Homo sapiens: one gene and its partners. The protein of the gene in region 3 purifies or fractionates together with the protein of the main gene of each other region. This does not show direct contact. Each region holds a gene or a part of one and is shown on either strand. Other genes may lie near its edges.

Region 1 (3,500 bases), on a different chromosome or scaffold from region 3:
AAAGGGGGGCAATGAGGAAGCAGGAGGGAGATGAGAAAAGGAAAGAAGAAGGGAGAGGAATGGCCAGACCCAGAGAGCAGCAGAGGAGCATGGGGAGCAAGAGCCTGGGACAGGCAGGCACAGATGGCAGCGGTGACCCTGCACCCACCCACCAGCGCCCAGTAAGCCACACCTCCCGCCCCTGCACCCCAGCCTGGGCACCTCTCGGTTTCGGCCCCCTCGTCGGTACTCTCTGGGGGCGCCAAGGACTCCAGGCTCATTGGGCCCTGCGGGGATGAGTCCCCCAGCTCCAGGGGGGCGTCAGCACCTGTGGGGTGGAGGGAGCAGGGCTGGCTGGAAGGCCTCTGCGGCCACGAGACCCACACTCTGGGGGCCTGGAATTGCGGGGGCTAAAGCTACCCAGTGCCTGGCAGACACCACATGGCTGCTCTGTACTTCAGCACGGGACGGACAGATGTTAAGACCTCTCAGAACATGGCCACTAGGGGCAGGAGCATGAAGATGCAACAGAAGTGGGTGCCCCTGTGTGTCCTGGGTGGATGGGGACCCCAGGCCTAGCAAATAGGTCACAAACATCTCTCCCACCCAACCAGACTGCAGCCCCCTGAGGTCGGGAGGGCCCTGGATTCTGTGCTGCCTCCACGTCCATTCATCCTCCCCACCCTCTCATACTCCTTTAGAGAAAAGCAAACGGAGGCTAAGAAAGGGGAGTCATATCCAAGATACTAAATAAACACAAGCAGTCAGCAGAGCTGGTGTGTGAGCCCTGGCCTGGCCATGCAGAGATCCAAGGGCCTGAGGCCACAGCAGTGTAAGGATGGTGAGGGATGAAGCTCATGGGGCTGGCGGGCTCCCCACCTAGGGGGCCAGCAATGCAGCTCAGAGGGTGGACTGGTCATGTACTCAGGGAAGGTTCTGGAAAAGGAAGGGTTGATGGAAAACGTAGTCCAAGGGGGTGGGAGACGCAGCACCAGCAGAGAGGTCAGAGCCTGGGAGCAAAGCTGTGGAAAGGGCAAACTGAGGGAAGGGGAAAGTTATGAATGACAGTGGTGACCAGGAGCAGGGAGAAGTGGATGCTGAGAGCAAAGGGGAGGTGTTGCTGGGGAATGGCTTCTATCTGGGGGTGCCAAGGGGGCAGGCAGCACCCCCACCCTGGATCGCCGGGCCTCATGGAGCCCTGGCCCAGGAAACTCTCACCTGGTTCCCGGTCTGGGCTGTCCAGGGACAGAGGGTGCAGAGAGACTCCAGGGGTGTCCTGCCCAGGAGCCCCGATATTCCGGTCCCGAGAGGGCATCCCCACGCCTCCCTTCCGGTCTGTAGCACCTGGCTTCTCGGCTGGGGAGACAGTGAGGGAGAAAGAGGGAGATAAGAGAACAGTAACTCAAATCCACAACCGCCAGGGGATGCAAGAGGCTGTGCTCAGGCCCTTCCCCACCATGACAAGGAGCCCCTTCCTCCCTCAGACCCAGGAGCCCTCAACCCCTCCTCCCTCAGACACAGGAGTCCAGGCCCCCAGCCCCTCCTCCCTCAGACCCAGAGGTCCAGGCCCCAGGCCTTCCTCCCTCAGACCCAGGAACTCCCCCAGCCCCTCCTCCCTCAGACCCAGGGGTCTAGGCCCAGCCCTTCCTCCTCAGACCTAAGAGTCCGAGTCTGAGCCGCTCCTCCCTCAGACCCAGGGGTCCAGGCCCAATCCCTCCTACCTCGGACCCAGGGGTCCAGGCCCCAGGCCTCCCTCCCTCAGACCCAGGAGCTCCCCCAGCCCCTCCTCCCTCAGAGCCAGGGGTCCAGGCCCAGTCCCTCCTCCCTCAGACCCAGGGGTCCAGGCCCAGCCCTTCCTCCCTCAGACCCAGGAGCTCCCCCAGCCCCTCCTCCCTCAGACCCAGGTGTCCAGGCCCCCATCCCCTCCTCCCTCAGAACCAGGCGTCCAGGTCCCAGCCCCTCCTCCCTCAGACCCAGGCGTCCAGGTCCTAGCCTCTCCCACACAGGCCCCCAGTATGGATGCTATGGCTACAGGTACATTACCATCAACCTCTGCTTTGAGGTGTCGAAAATCTGGAACTGAAACGAGAGAGAATGAGACAGTGAGTGGGAGCAGCTGGGGAAGACAGGGGAGGGCAGAGGCCAGAGCCGCCTTACCCTGGGGCTCTCCCCGGTTCCAGCGGGCGGCATCCAGGATGCTGCTCAGCCCCTTCTTGGTCTTGGCAGGCTCGTCCGACCGCCGGTTCCCCATCACCTGTGAGAGGGCGGGGAGGAAGACCAGGCTAAGCATCTCTGAGACAACAACAAAGCAGAATTTGACGCTAGGTATCCAGAGTCATGAGGCTCCCAGGGCGTCTCTGGAGAGGAAAGGGTCAGGACGGGGCACTGAGGGAAGCACCTTTTTCCGGAAGAAGTTCCTCCCCGACTTCTTGTCTCCACTCTTGGTCCGCACCCCAAGGTGGCGCATGTACAGGCCAATGGCGTTGACCACGGCAGCACTGTAGGGAAGGGACAGTGAGGGCTCAACACACACAAAGACACACACACACACACACACACACACACACACTCACACACACACTCTCTCTCTCTCCCCCTAGAGGCAGAGGCCCGGCCTTCCCATCCTGACCCCACAACTACTTCCTGTGAGACTCTGAGGAGAGATGAGAGGGTTCAAAAGGACAGGGGCAAGGGCTGTTACCCAATGCCCAGGACCCAAGTGTCCAGGCCCCAGGCTCCTCCTCCCTCAGACCCAGGAGTCCAGGCCCCCAGCCCCCTCCTCCCTCAGACCCAGGAGTCCAGGCCCCCAGCCCCCTCCTCCCTCAGACCCAGGAGTCCAGGCCCCCAGCCCCTTCCTCCCTCAGACCCAGGAGTCCAGGCCCCCAGCCCCCTCCTCCCTCAGACCCAGGAGTCCAGACCCCCCAGCCCCCTCCTCCCTCAGACCCAGGCGTCCAGGCCCCCCAGCCCCCTCCTCCCTCAGACCCAGACGTCCAGGCCCCCCAGCCCCTTCCTCCCTCAGACCCAGGAGTCCAGGCCCCCAGCCTCCTCCTCCCTCAGACCCAGGAGTCCAGGCCCCCAGCCCCCTCCTCCCTCAGACCCAGGCGTCCAGGCCCCCAGCCCCCTCCTCCCTCAGACCCAGGCGTCCAGGACCCCAGCCCCCTCCTCCCTCAGACCCAGGCGTCCAGGCCCCCCAGCCCCCTCCTCCCTCAGACCCAGGCGTCCAGGCCCCCCAGCCCCCTCCTCCCTCAGACCCAGGCGTCTAGGCCCCCCAGCCCCCTCCTCCCTCAGACCCAGGCGTCCAGGCCCCCCAGCCTCCTCCTCCCTCAGACCCAGGAGTCCAGGCCCTCAGCCCCCTCCTCCCTCAAACCCAGGAGGCCGCACGCCTCCCCTGCCCCCCTCACCTCTTTTCTTCGTCGGTAGAGATGGTATGTCTGTAGGAGGAAGAGAGATGTTTGTGACATATTTGCTAGGCCTGGGGTCCCCATCCACCCAGGATACATCTCAGGGTTGCTGTCCTGGGA
Region 2 (3,500 bases), on a different chromosome or scaffold from region 3:
TTTTTATTTTGCTTCTTTTTTTTTTTTTTGAGACAGAGTTTTGCTCTTGTTGCCTGGGCTGGAGGGCAGTGGCACGATCTTGCCTCACTGCAACCTCTGCCTTCCGATTCAAGCGATTCTTTGCCTCAGCCTCCTGAGTAAGTGGGATTACAGGTGCCCGCCACCATGCCTGGCTTAAGTTTTGTATTTTCAGTAGACACAGTGTTTTGCCATGTTGGCCAGGCTGGTCTCGAACTCCTGATGTCAGGTGATCCACTTGCCTCGGCCTCCCAAAGTGCTGGGATTACAGGTGTGAGGCACTGCTCCCAGCCGAGCCTAAGTCTCTTTCTACTTCCCTGCATTCCCCAAAGAGATCCATTATAAACAGTTTAGCTTTTTAGACTTGTTTGCGAATATATACATATAAAGCAATTTTGCCTTTTTTTTTTTGAGATAGGGTCTCACTGTATTGCCTAGGCTGGAGTGCAGTGGTGCCGTCACGGCTCACTGAAACCTCTGCCTCCCAGGTTCAAGCGATTCTTGTGCCTTAGCCTCCCGTGTAGCTGGGATCACAGGCGTGTGCCACCATGGCCCAGCTAATTTTTGTAATTTTTAGTAGAGACAGAGTTTTGACACCTTGCCCAAGCTGGTCTTGAACTCCTGAGCCTAAGTGATCTTCCTGTCTTGGCCTCCCAAAGTGTTGGGATTACAGGCATGAGCCACCGCGCCCCGTGTGTTTTATAGAGATGGGGTTTCGCCATGTTGGCCAGGCTTGTCTCGACCTCCTGGGTTCAAGCAGTCCACCTGCCTCGGCTTCCCAAAGTGCTGGATTACAGGCATGAGCCACTGTACCTGGTCTGTATTTACTTTTGAGAGGAATTTAATAGAAATGACTTAGGAATGCAAATGGGATAATGGTTTACTGCTTATGGAATGGCCTTAGGAGGACATTTGTGGAGAGTTCTTACACCCGGCAGGGATTAGACTGGATTAGAATTTCACATCAAAATAGTCTGGCAAACAAAGTCTAGCTTTTTCTGTGTGGAGTCCTGGAGTGAGTGGGTGCAAGAGGGGGCTGAGGCTTCACTTCCGTCTTGGAGGAGGTTTGTTGTTGGGAGCAGTCTATCTTGACTGACCCTGGTGCAGTCACTGAGAAACTGAGGTATTTTCCAAAACCAAGTTGATTATTTGAGGGGAAGTGTTTGCAGAGAACTTTCAGGAGGCTTTGGGTATGGTGGGAAAAACACTGCACTCAGAACTGGGGGATTGGAGTTCCTGGGGCTAGCCCTTCCCCTCACTGGGTCCTCAGGTTTCCTTTACCCTTAGATATGGGATTGGGCTAGCTGGTTTCTAGGGCCCTTTCCAGTGGGAAGAGCTTGAGCTGCTGTTTTGCCTGAAGTGTAGTCCTTGCCTTCCAGGAGCTTGCAGTCTGGTTTAATGAGAGTGTTCATTTCAGCTCCTTCCGTCCCCTTGCAGTGAAAGGATATCATCTGCTGAGCATGAGAAGGCGAATGCTAAGAAATGGCAGCAATCAGCCCCTCTTACAGTGCCACTTCACCACCCGGAGAGAACCTTTGCCTTAGCCACAGTCACTTTCCCTTTGACTGGTAGAACCACCACTGATTTATAATTTGCCAAATGCTTCATGTACGAAAGTGCCCTTGGAACAGCCCTTTCAATTCTGTTTTTTTTTTCCCAGGTTGATTCCAAAGATAGTTCTCATAACTCCACAAACTCTGAATTTGCAGCTGAAGCTGAGGGTCAGAATGATACAATTGAGGAACCCAACAAGGTCCAGAAAAGGAAGAGGGATAGACTTCGAGACCAGGGCTCCACAATGATCTACCTGAAGGCTATCCAGGGCATCCTGGGGAAATCGATGCCAAAAAGGAAGGGAGAGGCTGCCACTCGGGCAAAACCAAGCGCAGCAGAGCATCCCAGCCATGGAGAAGGACCAGCCAGGAGTGAAGGACCAGCCAAGACTGCAGAAGGAGCAGCCAGGAGTGTCACAGTCACTGCTGCTCAGAAGGAGAAAGACGCAACCCCAGAGGTCAGCATGGAGGAGGATAAGACAGTGCCAGAGAGGAGCAGCTTCTATGACAGGAGAGTAGTTATAGACCCTCAAGAGAAACCCAGTGAGGAGCCCCTTGGGGACCGAAGGACTGTCATTGACAAATGCTCTCCACCCCTAGAGTTCTTGGATGACTCTGACTCTCATTTAGAAATCCAAAAGGTGAGTAAAGCTTGTACCAGGCATCTGACTTTTTAGTTCTGTTGATGAAATGTGTTCCATCTTTCTAGTTTGATCCTAAGTGTTACTAATTAAAAATAGTACTTTACTTAACCAGGCCTCCAGGGAACAAACTGATGGTTTTCTTCTAACATACTTTTCAGATTTTCAGAGTTATTAATAAACCTAAACTAAGTGCTTTTTTTTTTTTTTGAAGGATTTATATGTTAGGATATGGGTTTAGCTGCTGTGTAAAAGGCCAAAATCACAGTGGCTTAAACAGAATATAAGTTTGGCTTAAGAAGGATGGCTCCATCATGTCAGAGATACTGGTACCTTTTGTCTTGATTCTCTATCACCCCTCAACACAGTGTCCATCTCTTGGTGTGAAATGGATACTCTGATAGGACTCAGGGTTTGTTATCTGGGCATTCTGGCCAGTGGGAAGGGGAGAAGAGGAGAGTGCATTCCTTCCCTGTTAAGAGCTTGGCTCAAGAGTTGCACATGTTGTATCTGCTGTTGACAAGAGCGGGGAAACCCGGCTGACACCTGGCTGCAAGGGAGTCTGGAAAATCAGCCTTTATCTAGGCAGACTTGTACCTGGATAACCAGAGAAGAAGGGAAGGATGTCATTGGACGGAAACTAGTGATTTTTAACATAGCTTATAATTGAGGGGAAGCATTCCTCCATCTTTTTCTTTTTTTTTTTTTTTTTGTTGTTGGGACAGAGTCTTGCTCTGTTGCCCAGGCTGGAGTGCGATGGTGCAATCTTGGCTCACTGCAACCTCCACCTCCTGGGTTCAAGCAATTCTCCTGCCTCAGCCTCCTGAGTAGCTGGGATTACAGGTGTGCGCCACCAAACCGGCTAATTTTTGTATTTTTAGTAGATATGGGATTTCTCCATGTTGGCCAGGCTGGTCTCGAACTCCTGACCTCGTGATCCACCTGCCTTGGCCTCCCAAAGTGCCGGGATTACAGGCATGAGCCACTGTGCCAGGCCACATTCCTCCATCTTACTCGTCTCCACCCATCCTTTACTACTGCTCTGCAGGCAGCTTCTCTCATCTTTAGCTCTTTCTTCTAGTACTTACCCCATGTTTCTAAATAATCTTTACTGTTGATCAGTTTTTCAGTTTTAGATGTCTGAGGACTTCTTGCTTGGGCGATGAGAATTTAGTTCTCTATACCTCCTTCAGAAGCACCCACACCCAGGGACACATTAGCTTCCCCTTTCTGCAGCCTCCCTGTGTGGCTTGAATACCTTTTGGGTTAAGTCTGTGTAAGATTTGTT
Region 3 (3,500 bases):
CTTTGTTGGTTTGATATCTTTTATTGGTTTTTCTTGAGTTAGACAAATAAAATAAGGTAATGTGGCAGTATATATATTGCAAAGTAGAAGTAAAAGTCATCTAGTCACCTCCCAGGGGTGTGGGAAGTATCATGATATCTGAACTTACTTTTAGAAAAAAAATGTATATGCATGTAGAGAAAAAGAAGGCAGATGTCAAAAATTAGGGAATTGAGGTGAAGGGTATTTGGGAGTTCCTTGTACTATTATTTCAACAACTTTTTTAGGTTGATTTTTTTCAAAAACCCGTCTCTCGTAATCCTACCCTCAGAAAGAATTAGATGTGGATCCTGAGAGGTCACAGGTGTGCTAGGCATTTTGCATACATTTTAAATTTAGTTCTCAGCTCTCGAGGAGGAAACAAAGGTGATGGCAGGTGACCAGGGTCACACAACTTGGCTGAGTAGTGGAACCAGAATTTGGATGTGTTACTTCAGACCAGACCCTAGGGGAAAAAAAAAGAATTTGGACTTAGACCTCTGACCCCAATGCCTTTATTCCTTTATGGCCTTGTGTATCTCAAATAGCAAACCTTTCCCATGGGAAGGAATGACTGGCTTCCTCTGTCATCCTCTAGGTCCTTGATACTTTATGAGCCTGTGCTTAGTGAAAGCAGATGGGAGATAGCCCAGGCGGGGCTGCCATCCTGGGACTTGCAGGAAAACTAAGAAGGGTATGGAGGGAATCGTTGCCTCCCATTCAGGCCCTGAGGTCCCATTTCCTGGGACAGCCGAGACTCTCAGGAGGCAGCCCTGACCGTCACCCCTCCGCCCCGCCTGTCCTCCAGGAACTGAAGCTGCCCACCTTCCGAGCCCACTCCCCACTCCTGAAGAGCCGCCGGTTCTTCGTGGACATCCTGACCCTGCTGAGCAGCCACTGCCAGCTCTGCCCTGCAGCCCGGCACCTGGCCGTCTACCTGCTGGACCACTTCATGGATCGCTACAACGTCACCACCTCCAAGCAGCTCTACACCGTGGCCGTCTCCTGCCTCCTGCTTGCAAGTAAGCGAAAACCTACGTCTTCCTCCGCGCTTGTGCGGTCTCCTCCCGCTCAGTGCGCCTGGCTGCTTCCAAATCACTTTACATTTTGACGATCTTTGCACGTCTTATATGTTCATCCTTCACTGAGCGTTTTTTAGCATCAACATTTTTAGATGCAACATTTTTTAGCATCTTTAATGTACCAGACCAAGTGATAAGGATGTTAGCAGCTTGTCTCAATCCACACAGTGGCCCTAGGAGGCAGATACTCTTAGTATACCCCACTTTACAGAGGCACAGAGAGGTGACGAAGCCAGTTTTGGGCTGCCCGGGTAGTATATGGCAGACAAGATTTGAGCCCAGAACTGCCTGGTGCCAGAACCTGTGCCCTCAACCTCCTGTCTCCTGCTTCCTGGTATGGGGGATATGAACGTGCTGGGAGGGGAACCCTAGCAACCACTGTTCATAAGGTGTTTTGAAATGTGACTGCTTGATTTGGACCTAAGCAGGACCCATTGTGTGGTCACCAGGCCTGGGCACAGCCCTCTTGGGGTTTGCACCTTCCAAACAGGCCTCACTAAAAACACAGCGTAGCTTTGACCATCTGTCTGTCTGCCTTGGTAGAGATTACTGTGTTAATTCGCTGCTACTCGGATGATCTCCTTAAAACACAGTTCTGCCATGCCACCCTTCCACTTAACATCATCCCATGGTTTACTGGCAGTCTTAGGTTAAAGACCAACCCTTGAGTTCCTGCCTCTTTGCCCTGTGCCTTTCTCCTCATCACTTCCTGGGTTCCAGCCACACTGGCCAAGCCCCCTCTTGTCATAGAGCTTTGCACATGCTGTTCCCTCTACCTGGATTGCTTCTCCCTCCCTCCCGCTGCCCACCTGGTTCTGGGTAAACATCACCGAGGCTCTAGATCCCTGTGAAAACCTTCCCCCACTGCCCTCAGCAGGTGAGGTCTCCCAAGTATGCAGACCCTCAGCGTCATGTGCTTTGAATGAACAACCACCACCCCCCATGGATAGCAAGTTTCAGGGATGGAAAGGAGCTTGGCACATAGTAAGACCTCAAAAATAATCTGTGTAATCAATGAAACTAATGGAGCTAATGGTTCCTTGAGAGCCAGGCCTCTATACTTCTATAGTTGCCCTAATGCAGAGGAATGGAATGCCCCAGAGGCCTCAGGCTCAAAGTGGCCAGGTACAATTAGGACATTTCTTTGACATCTGGTATTTTATCCTTGACAGTCAGATTTTACATTCTCCTCTGAGATATGTTTGTGTCCTATTTCATTATTCATTTCCCCTCCCTGCCCCTCCATCCTTCATCCTGCTTGGTGCTGCAGGACTATGGCACCCACTTTCTCCTGTAGCTTTGTCTGCTTTTGGCAGGCTTCCATAAACCCCATGGGCACGATCACCCAGTTCCGGAAGCACAGATTTAGAGTTTTCAGAATTCTGTCTCGTTTTCCACGCTGGCACCTTTTACCTGCTGTTGTTCGTGATCCCATTGGCTGCTTTAGGCTCATAGCCCCACATTTGGTGATTTTTCTCTACCTTTGGCCAACTGGATTCCCTTGTTACACATGCGAGCCAGTCTTGCTGGGTGTCCAGCCTGTCTCAGCACCCCAAATCAACGTGCAGCCCCCTTTCGTCTGCGGGGCTTGTGAAACATCTCCGGCTGTGGAGGGCACACTGGGCATCGTATTTCAAGCAGCACAGGAGAAATTTGCGCCACGGCCTTTGGCCTGCTGCTGTCTGTGATCTGTGGGCTGCATCGCGGCCCGCTGGGGGCAGGGGACTTATATTTCCATGGGGCCATGGAAGCTCTCCCCGAGTGTCTGTCTGGGGAGCTGGGATGTGAGGCACACACTGGAGACTCCTTTGTGCTGCTGCCACCTTGGCGGAGAGAGGGGACGTTTCAGACAGAGAGGCAGACGCCCCCACCCACGTGTCTGAGGGCAGCACAGCCTCGGGCAGCAGGAACAGATTTTTCAGGACACCTGCCATATGCTGCAGAGACCAGAGGGAAGAAAAGTTTCCATGACAGCCTGAAATCCTATTCTTCCCTCCTCCCCTCTCCCCAGGCCATTGTGGGCCACAAGGGGGATCCCCTTGCCTCGGGAAGTTTGGAGATCTGCTAATTTGGTACCAAATTATTCTGAGATAAGAAGAGCTGGGGTTCTTGCCCCCCCACCTGTCAATCTCAGGTTTTTAAATCTGCTTCCAGATAGACAGGAAGGCTGGGCGCGGTGGCTCACACCTATAATCCCAACACCTTGGGAGGCAGAGGCAGGTGGATCACCTGAGGTCAGGAGTTTGAGATCAGCCCAGCCAACATGATGAAACCTTGTCTCTCCTAAAAATACAAAAATATTAGCCAGGCCAGTCGGATAACCTGAGGTCAGAAGTTTGAGACCAGCCTGACTAACATGGAGAAACCCCATCTCTACTAAAAATACAAAATTAGCTGGGC
Region 4 (4,204 bases), on a different chromosome or scaffold from region 3:
GTAGTCCCAGCTACTTGAGAGGCTGAGGTTCCCACCTCAGGAGGCCGAGGCTGCGGTGAGCTGAGATCGCACCACTGCACTCCAGCCTGGGCGACAGAGTGAGACCCTGTCCCAAAAATGCATAAATAGTAAAACTAGTGAGAGTGAATGAGAGATGGGATATGTAAAGGGAGTGGGAGGAGTTAAGGAGTAACTCCTCGGTTTCTGGCTTGTGTAAGAATAACTTCTGTGATTGGTGGGGAAAATCCACCAGAGTTCTGTTAAGTGTTGTTCATTTCCTGTCCCCCGTTAGGGGTTACCCCTTCCATCTTAAGCAGGATATTCTAGGATCTCTCAGTCTCACAGCCTTGCCCACCAATAACCAGCAGGTGAGCCCCCTCTCCCCAGACCTCTAGATCTGCAAAAGGCAACCTGGAGGCAAGGAAATCCCCAGCTGTGAGTAGCCATTCAATTCTGGTGCTGTGGTAACTGAGTTCAAAAACAATGAGTCTTGTTACCTACCCGTAAAATGAAAGACACCTCATCAGACACCTCACTGGATTGTGAGGCTCCAAGGAGCACACATATTGTTAGGCTCAGTTCGATTCCCTCCAGCCCTCTCCGCCCGTTTGAAGGCAGTTCCTTATCCCGGAGACAACGTACAGATGTTCTCTCTTTCCCTCTTTATTTTTTTTAAGACAGGGTCTCTGTTGCCCAGGCTGGAGTGCAGTGGCGCGACCACAGCTCACTACAGCCTCAACCTCCTGGGCTCAACACGATCCTCCTGCCTCAGCCTCCAGAGCGGCTGGGACTACAAGCGCGCACCACTGCACAGGGATTATTATTATTATTTTATTATTTTGTAGAGAAACGGGTGGGAGTGGTCTCGCTATGTTGCCCAGGCTGGTCTCAAACTCAGCTCAAGAGATCCTCCCGCCTCGGCGTCCCAAAGTGTTGGGATTACAGGCGCCTGCCACCGCGCCCGGACGCAGATATTTTCTATGGGCATCTGGAATGGCGTCCCCAAAGCTTGGCGCCGTGCTATGGTCAAGCCGGGTCGGGGGCTCGGGCCAGCCTTCAACACCGTTGGCAGCAATCGGAACGATCAACTGTACCCTCAGTACCGCGACCTCGCCCGGTCCTGCCAATGGCCGGCCCCTAGCCGGTCCTGAGGCCTCGCGAGAGCTCCCGTGGCTACGCCTTCCCCGGCCTCGGAACGGCCCCATCCTTCCTCTTTCCCCGCCTCCCAGCGGCGCTCCACTCTCGGATTGGCTGATTGATCCGAGTCAGTTTTTTTCCTCGCCAGAAAGCGGTTCGACAATTGGTCCTTCTTTTGGCCCCTCCTGCGATGCCCGCGGATTGGACGGCTGAGTCTGGCTACGCGGGCCTCCGCGGGAGCGCGACCGGGCCAATCAAGAGCTTGGCGTATTTTACAAACTGAGAAAGTAGCTCCAGCAGCACCCGAGAGGGTCAGGAGAAAAGCGGAGGAAGCTGGGTAGGCCCTGAGGGGCCTCGGTAAGGTAAGGCACGGGGGTCTTGAAGGGAACGAAGGCTGCTGGGTTCATAGGGAGGAGGGCAGTTTGGGGCCCGAGGGCGAAAGAGTAGGCTCGGGGTGTCTGGAGATAGCACCCATAAGAGCGGTCTTGCAGGCGCCGGGGGCTTGTGGGCGCGTGGATTAGGGCGGAGGTATCAGGGATGGCAGGACAGGTGCCCCGAGAACTGGTTGATCTTTGATCTTAGATTCTGCCTGCCTTCTTCCCCGTCTCAATTGTAGCCATCATGACCACCCGGCAAGCCACGAAGGATCCCCTCCTCCGGGGTGTATCTCCTACCCCTAGCAAGATTCCGGTACGCTCTCAGAAACGCACGCCTTTCCCCACTGTTACATCGTGCGCCGTGGACCAGGAGAACCAAGATCCAAGGGTAAGAGGGGCCTAATGGGGGAAGACAGTAGTCACACCAGTAATGCACCCCAACACTAAACCTCACCTTTTTGTCCCCGCTCCCTCCCCTAGAGATGGGTGCAGAAACCACCGCTCAATATTCAACGCCCCCTCGTTGATTCAGCAGGCCCCAGGCCGAAAGCCAGGCACCAGGCAGAGACATCACAAAGATTGGTGGGGATCAGTCAGCCTCGGAACCCCTTGGAAGAGCTCAGGCCTAGCCCTAGGGGTCAAAATGTGGGGCCTGGGCCCCCTGCCCAGACAGGTACCTGTTGGAGCCATGGTAACACGGCCTCCATGGCTGAGTAGGGGACTAGGAAGGGTAAAAGTGGGGTTTTGGGGTTTTGCACTCACTCCTGCTGTCTCCTACTTACTGTGATAGTCCTGGTCCCAGCTCCTGGAAAGCTCTTTGCTCTTAGAAGATCTCCCTTTCCTCCAGCAAAATGTCATCTCGCCAGGTGCCATGGCTTGTACCTGTAATCACAGCTACTCAGGAGGCTGAAGCAGGAGGATCACTGGAGGCCAGGAGTTGGAGACCAGCCTGGATGACAGAGGGAGATCCCATCTCTTTAAAAAATAAATAAATAAATAAATAATAAATATCACTTCTTCTGAAGCCTTTTCCAGTTCCCCATGTCACAATCAGTTGCTCTGTGTTCTCCTAATACTTTGCAGCACTTCTTTTATAACATGTATATACCTTGGCTTGAGTCTGTTACCTGTCTATAGTTTGATGATAGCCTCTTGAGGATAGGGGCTTTGTCTTATTCTTATGGGACCCCAGTGCTTAGAATAGTGTCTTATGTAACATTCTATGAACATTTGGTGACCAGGTGTGGTGGCTCACGCCTGTAATTCCAACACTCCTCCGAGGCAGGAGGATCATTTGAGCTCAGGAGTTTGAGACCAGCCTAGGCAACATAGTGAGACCCCATCTCTTTTTCTCTTTTTTTTTTTCTTTTCTTTTTTTTTTGTGGAGACAGAGTCTTACTCTATCCCTCAGGCTAGAGTACAGTGGCATGATCTCGGCTCACTGCAACATCCACCTCCCAGGTTCAAGCGATTCTCATGCCTCACCCCGAGTACCTGGGATTACCAGCACCTGCCACCACACCCAGCTAATTTTTGTTTTCTTTCTTTTTTTTTTTTTTTTTTTTGAGACAGAGTCTCACTCTGTCACTAAGCTGGAGTGCAGTGGCACGATCTTGGCTCATTGCAACCTCCACCTCCCAGGTTCAAGTGATTCTCCAGCCTCAGCCTCCTGAGTAGCTGGTACTACAGGCGCGCGCCACCAGGTCCAGCTAATTTTTTTTTGTTTTTGTTTTTTGTAGAGATGGGGTTTTACCATGTTGGCCAGGCTGGTCTCAAACTCCTGACCTCAGGTGATCCACCTGCCTCAGCCTCCCAAAGTGCTGGGATTACAGGAGTGAGCTACCGCACCCAGCCAATTTTTGTATTTTTTTAGTGGAGACAGGGTTTTGCTATGTTGGCCGGGTTGGTCTCAAACTCCTGACCACAGGTGATCCACCCGCCTCGGCCTCCCAAAGTGCTGGGATTACAGGCATGAGCCACTGCACCCAGCCATCTATTTCTTAAAAAAAAAAAAAAAAATAAGCCAAATTCAATTGAATGAGTCTCTTGCTCACCTTGTACCTCAAAGTTCCTATGCTAGGGGCCCTATCCCCCTCAGCCTTCCCCCTTCCTTTTCCTTCTCCTCTTTCCTTGCAGAGGCTCCAGGGACCATAGAGTTTGTGGCTGACCCTGCAGCCCTGGCCACCATCCTGTCAGGTGAGGGTGTGAAGAGCTGTCACCTGGGGCGCCAGCCTAGTCTGGCTAAAAGAGTACTGGTTCGAGGAAGTCAGGGAGGCACCACCCAGAGGGTCCAGGTAATGAAACAGGATGTGAGGAGACCAGGCTAGGGGGCACTGAGGGGGGCATCCTGAGCAGTGCTGACAGCCTCTGTTGGTGTCCCAGGGTGTTCGGGCCTCTGCATATTTGGCCCCCAGAACCCCCACCCACCGACTGGACCCTGCCAGGGCTTCCTGCTTCTCTAGGCTGGAGGGACCAGGACCTCGAGGCCGGACATTGTGCCCCCAGAGGCTACAGGCTCTGGTGAGTGCCCTTGAGGGGCTGATAGTCGGTGCTTCTGGGAGCTCCTTCCAGGGACAAAGCTGGGCTCTGGGAGAAGAGGTACCTCATGATGAGGCAAGGGATCCTACTGGGGGAGATGGGGTTGGTGGTGAGGCCTGAGGGTTTGGGGTCCACCTCTGATTCCGTTTTCA
Region 5 (3,500 bases), on a different chromosome or scaffold from region 3:
CTGAGGCAGGAGAATTGCTTGAACCTGGGAGGGGAACGTTGCAGTGAGCCAAGATGGTACCACTGCACTCCAGCCTAGGCAACAGAGCCAGACTCTGTCTCAAAAAATGTTAATAGATGGCTGGGTGCGGTGGCTCACAGCTGTAATCCCAGCACTCTGGGAGGGCGAGGCGGGTGGATCACAAGGTCAGGAGAACAAGACCATCCTGGCCAACGTGGTGAAACCCCATCTCTACTAAAAATACAAAAATTAGCTGGGCATGGTGGTACGTGCCTGTAGTCCCAGCTACTCAGGAGGCTGAGGCAGGAGAATCGCTTGAACCCGGGAGGCTCAGGTTGTGGTGAGCCGATATCGCACCACTGCATTCCAGCCTGGCACAGAGTGAGACTCCGTCTCAAAAACAAAAACAAAAACAAACAAACAAAAAAAGTTAATAGATAATGTCTAGAACTGTAAATTAGGAAGTAAAAAGATAAGCCTGCTATTCAGAAATATGGAAGTATATACAATAAGTGACAACTAAAAAAGCTGAAGTGTCTGTCTCCAGGGAAGGAGATGGTTGTTTTCCCACATAAATTTCTAAATTTCTTTTATATTTATTTATTTATTTATTTATTTATTTTGAGACAGAGTTTCGCTCTTGTTGCCCAGGCTGGAGAGCAATGGTGTGATCTCGGCTCACCACAACCTCCGCCTCCTGGGTTCAAGTGATTCTCTGGCCTCAGCCTCCTGAGTAGCTGGGATTTCAAGCATGCGCCACCACACCTGGCTAATTTTGTATTTTTAGTAGAGATGTGTTTCTCCATGTTGTTCAGGCTGGTCTTGAACTCCCAACCTCAGGTGATCTGCCTGCCTTGGCCTCCCAAAGTGTTGGGATTACAGGTGTGAGCCACTACACCCAAACTTATTTTTTATTTTTTTTTGACACAGGGTCTCACTCTGTTGCCCAGGCTGGAGTGCAGTGGCATAATCACAGCTCACTGAAGTCTCAACCTCCTGGGCTCAAGCAATCCTCCCACTTCAGCTTATTGAGTAGCTGAAACTACAGGCACCTGCTACCACACCGGCTAATTTTTGTATTTTTTTGTAGACATGAGGTTTTGCCATCTTGCCGAGGCTGGTCTCAAACTCTGGGGCTCAAGCAATCCACCTACCTCGGCCTCCCAAAGTGCTAGGATTACGGGCATGAGCCACCATGCCCAGACCCTTTTAATATTTTAAGAAAAAATTATATGCATGAGTTATTTTGATAAAAAACATACATAACTCTTTTACATAAAAATATATATAAGCTGTTAAAATATGAATTTTTTAAAAAATTAAAGTCAGAACCAGAAAAAACAGAAATTACAATAGAAAGATGGGGAGAGAGGGAGACATAAATATGCAGATTACAAAGTTCTACACTAAGATGGAACATGGTACTGATGAGCCTAGAATTTGACTGAGCATCATAAATGCCAAGATGAAAAGAGAAACATATTTATTTATATAGTTTTCCTCATCCAGGTAGAGAAAATGCAACAAGTTCCTTGAATAAGCAACATATCTCCACACTTTGCTCTAAAATAAATTTCTCACATGGAATTTGATATGCTGTTATCATACACCATCTATAACCAATACGTACCCAAAACAACCCCACTGACACGGCATTTCCCAGTGTGTTCAGGCTCTGGTTCTGTAAGAATAAGATCTTCTACAGCTCCCTCCTGAACAGTAAGCAGTGGTGTATTCAAGATTTCTTTCTGTCAAAAGAAAATGCCAGTTGAAACATGGTAATTAAACAATCACTATAATCTTTCCTGTGCTCATGCCCTATTCTTACCTGCATGTTCTGTTTATAGAGTTTCCTATCAATCTGAGCTCTCAGACCCCACACAGCTGGTCCCTTACGCCGGTTTAATACTTTATAATGTACACCAGACTGGTCACAGATGCGAGAACACAGGCCATCCAAGGCATCTACTTCCCTCATTAAATGTCCCTTTCCGATGCCACCAAAGGAAGGATTACATGACATCTGACCTAAAGATAATAGACATAAACAAAATAAATATATGAGCACCTTGCACATAGTGACTACTTAATAAGGAAACATTTATACAGGTGACTATAATCATCTCATATGATAAAAAATAGAAAACGTGAAAGATATACTACAAAGAAAATCCCAAAGACCCAATGGGATGCAAAAGTGTCCAGGGCAACCTGGATGACAAACCACTTCCTGAACTTCCTTTTGTTTTTTTTAAGATGGAGTCTCACTCTGTCACCCAGGCTGGAGTGCAGTGGTACAATCTCGGCTCACTGCAACCTCTGCCTCCTGGGTTCAAGCGATTCTCCTGCCTCAGCATCCCGAGTAGCCGGGATTACAGGTGTCCGGCACCACGCCTGGCTAATTTTTGTATTTTTGGTAGACGGGTTTCACCATGTCGACCAGGCTGGTCTCAAACTCCTGACCTCAGGTGATCTGCCCACCTCGGCCTCCCAGAGTGCTGGGATTACAGCCGTGAGCCACCGCGCCCGGCCTGAACTTTCTTTTGAATCTCTTCCTTGATGCATATTTTTACTGTTTCACTAGGTTGCCTTTTCCTTTCAAACATGTAATCCTTACCCCATGAAACCTTTCTAAACCAAGTATACTTGGTTTTTAAATTTGTTCTTTTTTGATACAGCACCAGAGGAATCTACCAAATCAAGCACACTTGTAAGAAGTCCCTAGTCCTTCAACATAAATAAGGACAAAAATAAATAAATAAATAAAAAACAGGGCCGGGTGTGGTGGCTCACGCCTGTAATCCTAGCACTTTGGGAGGCCAAAGAGGGTGGATTGCTGGAGCTCAGAAGTTTGAGACCACCCTGGGCGACACGGTGAAACCCCGTCTCTACTAAAATACAAAAAAATAGCCAGGCATGGCAGTTTGCACCTGTAATCCCAGCTACTTGGGAGGCTGAGGCAAAAGAATCGCTTGACCCTGGGAGGCTGAGGTTGCAGTGAGCCGAGATGGCACCATCGCACTCCACCCTGGGTGACAACAGTGACTCCATCTCAAAAAAAAAAAGAAAAGAAAAAAGAAAAAACAAAGAAGCCCCTTGGCACTGGTTCAGTTACAACCAATTATGTCTTCCATAAATGCCATCTGATATCTCCTTTTTGCACTTACTTTGCAGAATTAAATATAATTAAATTACAAATTTCTTGTGAGTGAAGACCATATTTTATACCTTTCCCTTACATTTACCCAGTCTTACCTGGAGGTCTAAACCCATGTGGTTACCTCAAAAGTTTTTGTGGGAGGTGGAGGGATGGGCAAGTTATGTCAATATCCACATATCCACTGCCACCACATCAAGAATCAAGACCTCCAAAAGTTTTTTTTTTTTTTTTTTTTTTTTTTGAGACAGAGTTTCGCTCTTGTTGCCCAGGCTGGAGTGCAATGGCACGATCTCAGCTCACTGCAACCTCCACCTCCCGAGTTCAAGTGATTCTCCTGCCT
Region 6 (3,500 bases), on a different chromosome or scaffold from region 3:
AGGTATACCAGCATACTCTATGTGGGCTTCTGCTTTTGTCAGCAAAATAACTTTTCATTTAGTAAGTATCAAAGGGAAATAAAAACTTAGCATTTTGTATAATAGTGTGTTAATCTGTAGTGAATCAGGTAAAAACAACAAATCTGAGTTATGTAGCACTGTGGGGCCTGGAGGCTAAAAAAAAAAAAAGTGTGTTTTGTCAAGAGTTTAACAAACAATTATTCTGTATTTCTTTTTTTCTGTTTTTTCTTTTTCTTTTCTTTTCTTTTTTTTTTTTTTTTGAGACAGGGTCTCATGCTGTCTCTCAGGCTAGAGTGCAGTGGTGCAATCACGGCTCACAGAAGCCTCTACCTCCCAGGCTCAGGTGATCCTCCCACATCAGCCTCCCAAGTAACTGGGACTACAGGTGCGAGCCACCACACCTGGCCAATTTTTGCACTTTTTTTAAGACAGGGTTACGCCATGTTGCCCAGGCTGGTCTCAAACTCCTGGGCACAAGCCATCCACCCACCTTGGCCTCCCAAGGTGCTAGGATTACAGGTGTGAGCCACCATGCCTGGCCTCGTGAGCTTAATTTAGTCTGTTGAGAATTGTATATGCTTTCCTTAACAATGAAGTAATTTGTTCTAATGAAGTGGGAAATCCCTTTGCATCTTTTTAAATACAGCTTTCTTTCACACTCTATATAGTTTGGAGAAAATGTTAGGAATTCTTGAAGGTAGTAATCACTATTACACTACTTAAGATTGGAAGTTATGGCTGGGCATGGTGGCTCACACCTATAATCACAACACTTTGGGCGGCCAAGGCGGGAGGATCACTTGAGCCCAGGAGTTCAAGACCAGCCTGGGCAACATGGCAAAACCCCATCTCTACAAAAAAATACAAAAATTAGCCCAGCGTGGTGGCACATGCAGATAGTCCCAGCTACTTGGGAGGCTGAGGTGGTAGAATCTCTTGAGCCTGGGAGGTTGAAGATGCAGTGAGCCACTGCATTCCAGCCTGGGTGACAGAGCAACACCCTGTCTCAAATAAATAAATAGGAAATGTTCTGTATTTTTTAGTAGGATACTTGTAAAGTGGGGTGTGATAGTCTCAGGATTGCAAAATAAGTGGAAAGTCAGTAGTCACCACAAATGGGAAACACAGTGGAACCAGCAATCTATTTCAAAAGAATTATTTGGGGATAATAAACTATGGATTTAGCTTCTCTTCAAGCTTTTGGCATTTTCAAGGCAGTTATCATTGAATTTGGGTAGTTTTTTCCCTGATATTCAAATTAGAAAATTGAAAAGCAGAATAATCACGAAGTAGTAAATGCCGTAACTTGGGCAACAGCCTTTTGGAGGGGACTTTTACAACTTTTAGAAGTGCAAAGGAGTGAATATTTCCCTTTGGTTTATCATTCAGTAAGTCAGCTTTTGAAATCCTTTTCTTGCCAACCTTTGTGAGTAGAGAAAACATACAAATGTGTCCATTCCAAAAGGGAGTGGTTGCTGGTTAAATATGTAAAAGTAGTAACTTTAGATAAATGTGTGGTATATACAAGGTTAAATCAGGAAAAGTTATCTTATAAATAGTGGTGGCCTCTTAGAGAACATTCCGCTTTGTTTCTGAGCTTTTGAAAACTGAGAATACATTTGAAATAGTAAGGAATTTATGTACTCCTTAAATTTGTTAAGGAATGAACTCTGCACATAGCTTTCTTGTTGCTTGAAATTATAGTTTCCAGGCGTAATTTCATAGGTCCTATGTACCTCAAATAGAAGGTTTGAAATACCTTACTCAGCAAGTATATTACCTCATAGTTTAATGTTCAGTGTTAGTTTTTTCTTACCCCTCTACCTCCTGAAGAATTGTTTTCGCTCTTGTGTTCCCTTAATGCAGTGATTCTCAAGATGTGGTTTCTGCCCAGTCCCTCCACATGGGAAATATAGCACTGTTTGTTTGTTTTTTTAAGTTTTTATTGCTTCATAGTTGTTCATACTTAGGTATGCCTAAGGGCTACTTATTAATAACCTACCAAGTGAATTACTAAGGATTACTAAAACATGGTATTCATAACCTAAAACTAGAACAATATTGGAGTTTACTGTGGTCTCTTAATACTTTTTTCGCCCAGGAAGTCTGTCCTGGGAAACCTGGCACCAATACAAGCTTCTCACATGTCATATGCAGAATGGGGATTCCTGCAGTATTCAGGAAGTATGCTTAGTTTGGGGTGCATCATCTGAATTGTCTCAAAATAATGTCAGTTTTCATCATGATTCCTCTTTTTTTATTAGAATTTTTATTTAACTTCATCTTTATCAATTTAATTTATAGGTTTTTTTGTTTACTTTTCATTGTGTGGGCAGGAATATTTATACCAACAATATTTTGGCTTATAATGTAAGACATAAATGTGTTACAATGCAAAGATAGATTCTCTAGTCCCCTTTTGCTATTGCTGATTTGTATAGTCACCTAAAAACTTGCTCACACAGAGGTACTTCAGTGTTACCAAAGTTCCTTTTACACTGGAAAACTGATGGAACAAGAGGCCTCCTTCTAGTAGATGCTTTATCTGTAGTCTTTGGGTAGGGAGCTAAGTTTGTCCCTAACCCCAGCTCCCTTTGTCAGGAGCATGAGGGACCTTTTTCCGTCTTTCCTCACTGCCTGCCATATAAGCATTGGATATATAGTTATTGAATGGTGTTGTCTCAGTTTTTCAAAATGGTAAATATTTTGGAGAGACTTTATGTTACAGATTTTAGAATAAATTCACCTAAGATATTTATTGAATACATATTAGGGTCTAATAAGTATCCAAATGAGTATGCAGTATGAGTGTTTTAGACATCATTTAAAGTAGACATCATTAAGGAAAATGTTGATATTCATGCTGCTTATATATTTTATTTGCTTTTCTTAAGAGCAGAGAGTTTTCTGTAATAGAAAAATCCTTTTCCTTCAGATTTGTGTATATTTGAATAACACATGATCTCCTATTATTTGGCCTCCTGGGGGGAAAACCACAAGTACTACGGAATATTACATTTGTTTTTCTTCCCTGTACTGCAACCGTCATAAGCATTTACCTCAATTCTTCCTTAGTATTTTTTGGGAGTCCAAGGCAAATTTTTCAATCCTTAAGATTTCAGGCAGGGATTATTTACTTCCCCTTTTTTACTATTATTTGCTTCCGGAAATTCCTTACTCTATCCTAGGCCTAAATTTTATTTTTTAGTAAATTATTTGAATGCTGAAAGGATTTGTCTTTTCTCCTTTGTACCATTTTAGGTCAGGACTATATTCTGTAATTCTTTCTGACCACAGATGCACTGCTACTAGGTTAAAAAAGCTCTCAACTTTTTAGAGGAAGGTTTTTCCAGAGACTCTTTTTTTTTTTTTTTTTTTTAAGGTCTCACTCTGTCTCCTAGGCTGAAGTGCAGTGGTGCGATCATGGTTTACTGCAGCCTCGACCTCCCCAGCTCAGGCGATCCTCCCACCCCTCACTC
Region 7 (3,500 bases), on a different chromosome or scaffold from region 3:
ACTGGTTAGCTATATGGAATTAAATAAATTCCTATTTATTGGTGTGTGTTTTAAGATGCAACAGACTAGAACATGTTGAAGGCTGTTGGGTGGATGTTAGCGGAAAGGAGGAGAGGGAGATCAAGGTACAGTAGAAAAAGTGAGAAAAAAATGCGGACAGGGCTGGGATGCAGAACCCTGGGAGAGCAATTTGCCTCTAAAGGAAGGTCTAGGGTAGTAGACCAACTCAATTCTTATAAAGTAAGATTCTAGAGATATCAAAGATTTTTTTAAGTTATAAAACATACAATTATACAAAAAAAAATGTCATAGAGACCCATAAATTCACTGCCAAGTTAAACAGATGTTAATGTTTTGCCTGATTTGTTTCAGATCTCTGGTTTAAAAAAAGGAATAAAATGCTTGTGCTAATAGCTAAAGCCCACCTTCATATTTAGTCACTCTCCCTCCCGCCAGAAACAACCACAACCCTCACTATGTTTGTTTTGTATTTTTATTACTGATATATATATTACAGACAATAGATAGTGTTTTGTGTTTTAAAATTATACATCAGGAGTATCAACTTGTTTTTTTCACTGATCAGTGTGTTTGCCATTCAATGGCATGACATGGAACTCTGGTTGAGTGATTTTTTTTTTTTTTTTTTTTTTTTTTTTTTTGAGACAGAGTCTCGCTCTGTCACCCAGGCTGGAATACAGTAGTGCAATCTAGGCTCACTGCAACCTCGGCCTCCTGGGTTCAAGCGATTCTGCTGCCTCAGCCTCCTGAGTAGCTGGGACTATAGGTGCCCACCACCACGCCCAGTTAATTTTTATATTTTTAGTAGGGAAGGGGTTTCACCATGTTGGCCAGGCTGGTCTTGAACTCCTGACCTCAAGTGATCCACCCACCTTGGCCTCCCAAAGTGCTGGGATTACAGGTGTGAGCCACCGTGCCTGGCCTGGTTGAGTGATTTTAATGTCTGTATTGTGTTTCATTGCTTACTTACCCATTCCTCTGTTGATAAACAGTTGGGTTTCAACTCTAATGCCCTTATACACAGTGCTGCAATGTAGGTCTTATTGTGAGTGTACAAGAATTTCTCCAGGGAAATACCTAGAAAGTAGAATCACTGGGTTACAGGAGTGTATGTTATTGGTGAATTCAATTTTTTGTTTGTTTTGTTTTGTTTTGTTTTTTGAGATAGAGTTTCACTCTTGTTGCCCAGGCTGGAGTGCAATGGCGTGATCTTGGCTCACTGCAACCTCCGCCTCCCAGGATCAAGCGATTGTCCTGCCTCAGCCTCCTGAGTAGCTGGGACTACAGGCGCCTGCCACCATGCCCAGCTAATTTTTGTATTTTTAGTGGAGACGGGGTTTCACCATGTTGGCCAGGCTGGTCTTGAACTCCTTACATTGTGATCCGTCCACCTTGGCCTCCCAAAGTGCTGGGATTACAGGTGTGAGCCACCATGCCTGGCCCTCAATTTTTTTAATGATTGAAAAAATATATAACCTAAAAGTTATCATTCTAACAGTCTTTAAGTGTACAATTCAGTGGAAACATTCAGTGTTCTATCACCATCACTACTATTTCCAAAACTTTTTTCATCATCCCAAACAAAAATAACTCCTATTTCTCCCTCTCCCAGACTCTGTTCTACTTTCTGTCTGTATGAGTTTCCTGTTCTAGGTACTTCACATGAGTGAAATCATACAAGATTTGTCCTTTTGTGTCTGGCTTATTTCACTTAGCATGGTGTTTTCAAGGTTCATCCATGTTGTAGCATATATCAGAATTTTATTTCTTTTTATGGCTTAATCATGTTCCATTGTCTGTATATACATTTTGTTTACCTATTTATCAATGGATGGACAAATAGGTTTTCATCTTTTGGTTACTGTGAATAATGCTGCGATGAACATTGGTGTACAAGTATCTGTTTGAGTCCTGTTTTCAATTCTTTTGGGTCTGTACCTAGGAGTAGAATGTGCCTTATGGTAATTCTAGGTTTAGTTTTTTGAGGAACTGCCAAACTGTTTTCCATAGCAGTTGCATCATTTTACATTCCTAGTAGCAGTGCACAGGGTTCCAGTTTCTCCACACTACCTCCATCACTTATTTTCCTTTGTTTTCTTTTTCTTTTTTTTCAGTAATAGCCATCTTAATGGGTGTGAAGTAGTATCTCATAGTGGTTTTTGATTTGCATTTACCTAGTGATTAATGATGTTGAACATCTTTTCATATGCTTGGTGACCATTTGTATATCTTTTTTGGAGAAATGTCTATTCAAATCCTCTGCCCATTTTTGAATTGAGTTGGTTTTTGTTGGTGAGTTGTGAGAGTTCTTTATGTAATAAATTCTGAATATTAATCCCTTATCAGATCTATGATTTGTAAGTATTTTCTCCCATCCTGTGGTTGCCTTTTTACTATCTTTTGTTTTGCTTTGTTTTTTGGAGACAGAGTTTCACTCTTGTTGCCCAGGCTGGAGTGTAATGGCGCGATCTCAGCTCACTGCAACCTCCGCCTCCCAGGTTCAAGCGATTCTCCTGCATCAGCAGTGTCCTTTGGTGCACAAAAGCTTTTAATTTTGATTTCCAAGAGTTTTATAGTTTTAGCTCTTAAATTTAGGTCTTTGATTCATTTGAGGTTAATTTTTTTTTCTTAGAGATGGGGGTCTCGTTATGTTGCCCAGGCTAGCCTCAAACTCCTGGGCTCAGGTAAGCTTCCTACTTCAGCTTCTGAGTAGGTGGGATTATAGGGGTGTGCCATTGTGCCCAGCTGCTGATTTTGAGTTAATTTTTGTATGTGGTGTAATTTTTGCATATGGTCCAACTTCATTGTTTTGAATATGGATATCCAGTTTTCCTGGCATCGTTTGTTGAAAAGACTGTCCTTTCCCCATGGAATATTCTTGGTATCCTTACCAAAAATCAGTTGACCATATATGTGAGGGTTTATTTCTGGCCTTTCTATACTATTCCATTGGTAAATATGTCTGTCTTTTTGCCAGTATCACACTGTTTTGATTATAGTAGCTTTGTATTAAGATTTAAGTCAGGAAATGTGAGTCCTCTAACTTTGTTCTTTTTTTAATATTGTTATGGATATTTGGGATCCCTGGACATTCCATGTGAATTTTAAGATTTTTTTTTTTCTATAAAAAACACCATTGGATGCCTTTCATTTCTTTTTCATTCCTAATCACTCTAAAACTTCCAGTATTATGTTGAATAGAAATGAAAAGAATGGCTGTCCTTGTCTTGTTCCTAATCTTAAGGGAGAAGCTTTCAATGTTTCACCATTGAGTATGACGTTAACTGTGGGTTTTTCTTATATGGACTTTATCAATAACTGAAGACATTCCCTCCTATTCCTAGTTGATTGTTTTTTTACATGAAAAGGTTATTGAATTTATCAAGTCCATTTTCTGCATCAGTTGAGATGATCATTTGGGTTTTTTCCCCTTCATTCTATTAATGTATATGACATTGATTTACCTATGTTGAACCATC

The links.
Region 1: the proteins of CCNJL (region 3) and ARHGEF1 purify together in Homo sapiens (affinity purification with mass spectrometry; 2 studies listed by BioGRID and IntAct, with this or other methods). This does not show direct contact.
Region 2: the proteins of CCNJL (region 3) and TATDN2 purify together in Homo sapiens (affinity purification with mass spectrometry; 2 studies listed by BioGRID and IntAct, with this or other methods). This does not show direct contact.
Region 4: the proteins of CCNJL (region 3) and TROAP purify together in Homo sapiens (affinity purification with mass spectrometry; 3 studies listed by BioGRID and IntAct, with this or other methods). This does not show direct contact.
Region 5: the proteins of CCNJL (region 3) and MTO1 purify together in Homo sapiens (affinity purification with mass spectrometry; 3 studies listed by BioGRID and IntAct, with this or other methods). This does not show direct contact.
Region 6: the proteins of CCNJL (region 3) and RSPRY1 purify together in Homo sapiens (affinity purification with mass spectrometry; 2 studies listed by BioGRID and IntAct, with this or other methods). This does not show direct contact.
Region 7: the proteins of CCNJL (region 3) and OS9 purify together in Homo sapiens (affinity purification with mass spectrometry; one large-scale study listed by BioGRID and IntAct). This does not show direct contact.

Annotation. Positions count from the first base shown.
Region 1 is NC_000019.10:41,893,184-41,896,683, reverse strand, and holds part of ARHGEF1 (rho guanine nucleotide exchange factor 1), read right to left. Parts: intron 3,411-3,500; coding exon 3,381-3,410; intron 2,478-3,380; coding exon 2,378-2,477; intron 2,234-2,377; coding exon 2,137-2,233; intron 2,059-2,136; coding exon 2,023-2,058; intron 1,336-2,022; coding exon 1,198-1,335; intron 308-1,197; coding exon 202-307; intron 1-201. UniProt on the Homo sapiens protein: Seems to play a role in the regulation of RhoA GTPase by guanine nucleotide-binding alpha-12 (GNA12) and alpha-13 (GNA13) subunits. Acts as a GTPase-activating protein (GAP) for GNA12 and GNA13, and as guanine nucleotide exchange factor (GEF) for RhoA GTPase.
Region 2 is NC_000003.12:10,258,459-10,261,958, forward strand, and holds part of TATDN2 (3'-5' RNA nuclease TATDN2), read left to right. Parts: intron 1-1,678; coding exon 1,679-2,212; intron 2,213-3,500. UniProt on the Homo sapiens protein: Mg(2+)-dependent 3'RNA exonuclease and endonuclease that resolves R-loops via specific degradation of R-loop RNA stucture. Shows no activity against D-loop and minimal activity against the RNA strand of an RNA-DNA hybrid duplex oligomer.
Region 3 is NC_000005.10:160,278,065-160,281,564, reverse strand, and holds part of CCNJL (cyclin-J-like protein), read left to right. Parts: exon of another isoform or gene 1-655; coding exon of another isoform or gene 656-712; intron 713-826; coding exon 827-1,040; intron 1,041-3,500.
Region 4 is NC_000012.12:49,321,851-49,326,054, forward strand, and holds the start of TROAP (tastin), read left to right. Parts: upstream 1-1,404; 5' UTR 1,405-1,499; intron 1,500-1,753; 5' UTR 1,754-1,758; coding exon 1,759-1,902; intron 1,903-1,994; coding exon 1,995-2,187; intron 2,188-2,296; exon of another isoform or gene 2,297-2,304; coding exon of another isoform or gene 2,305-2,424; exon of another isoform or gene 2,425-2,538; intron 2,539-2,641; exon of another isoform or gene 2,642-2,726; intron 2,727-3,650; coding exon 3,651-3,808; intron 3,809-3,896; coding exon 3,897-4,034; intron 4,035-4,204. UniProt on the Homo sapiens protein: Could be involved with bystin and trophinin in a cell adhesion molecule complex that mediates an initial attachment of the blastocyst to uterine epithelial cells at the time of the embryo implantation.
Region 5 is NC_000006.12:73,464,737-73,468,236, reverse strand, and holds part of MTO1 (5-taurinomethyluridine-[tRNA] synthase subunit MTO1, mitochondrial), read right to left. Parts: intron 2,029-3,500; coding exon 1,829-2,028; intron 1,749-1,828; coding exon 1,631-1,748; intron 1-1,630. UniProt on the Homo sapiens protein: Component of the GTPBP3-MTO1 complex that catalyzes the 5-taurinomethyluridine (taum(5)U) modification at the 34th wobble position (U34) of mitochondrial tRNAs (mt-tRNAs), which plays a role in mt-tRNA decoding and mitochondrial translation.
Region 6 is NC_000016.10:57,189,329-57,192,828, forward strand, and holds part of RSPRY1 (RING finger and SPRY domain-containing protein 1 isoform 1 precursor), read left to right. Parts: intron 1-3,500.
Region 7 is NC_000012.12:57,700,632-57,704,131, forward strand, and holds part of OS9 (protein OS-9 isoform 1 precursor), read left to right. Parts: intron 1-3,500. UniProt on the Homo sapiens protein: Lectin component of the HRD1 complex, which functions in endoplasmic reticulum (ER) quality control and ER-associated degradation (ERAD).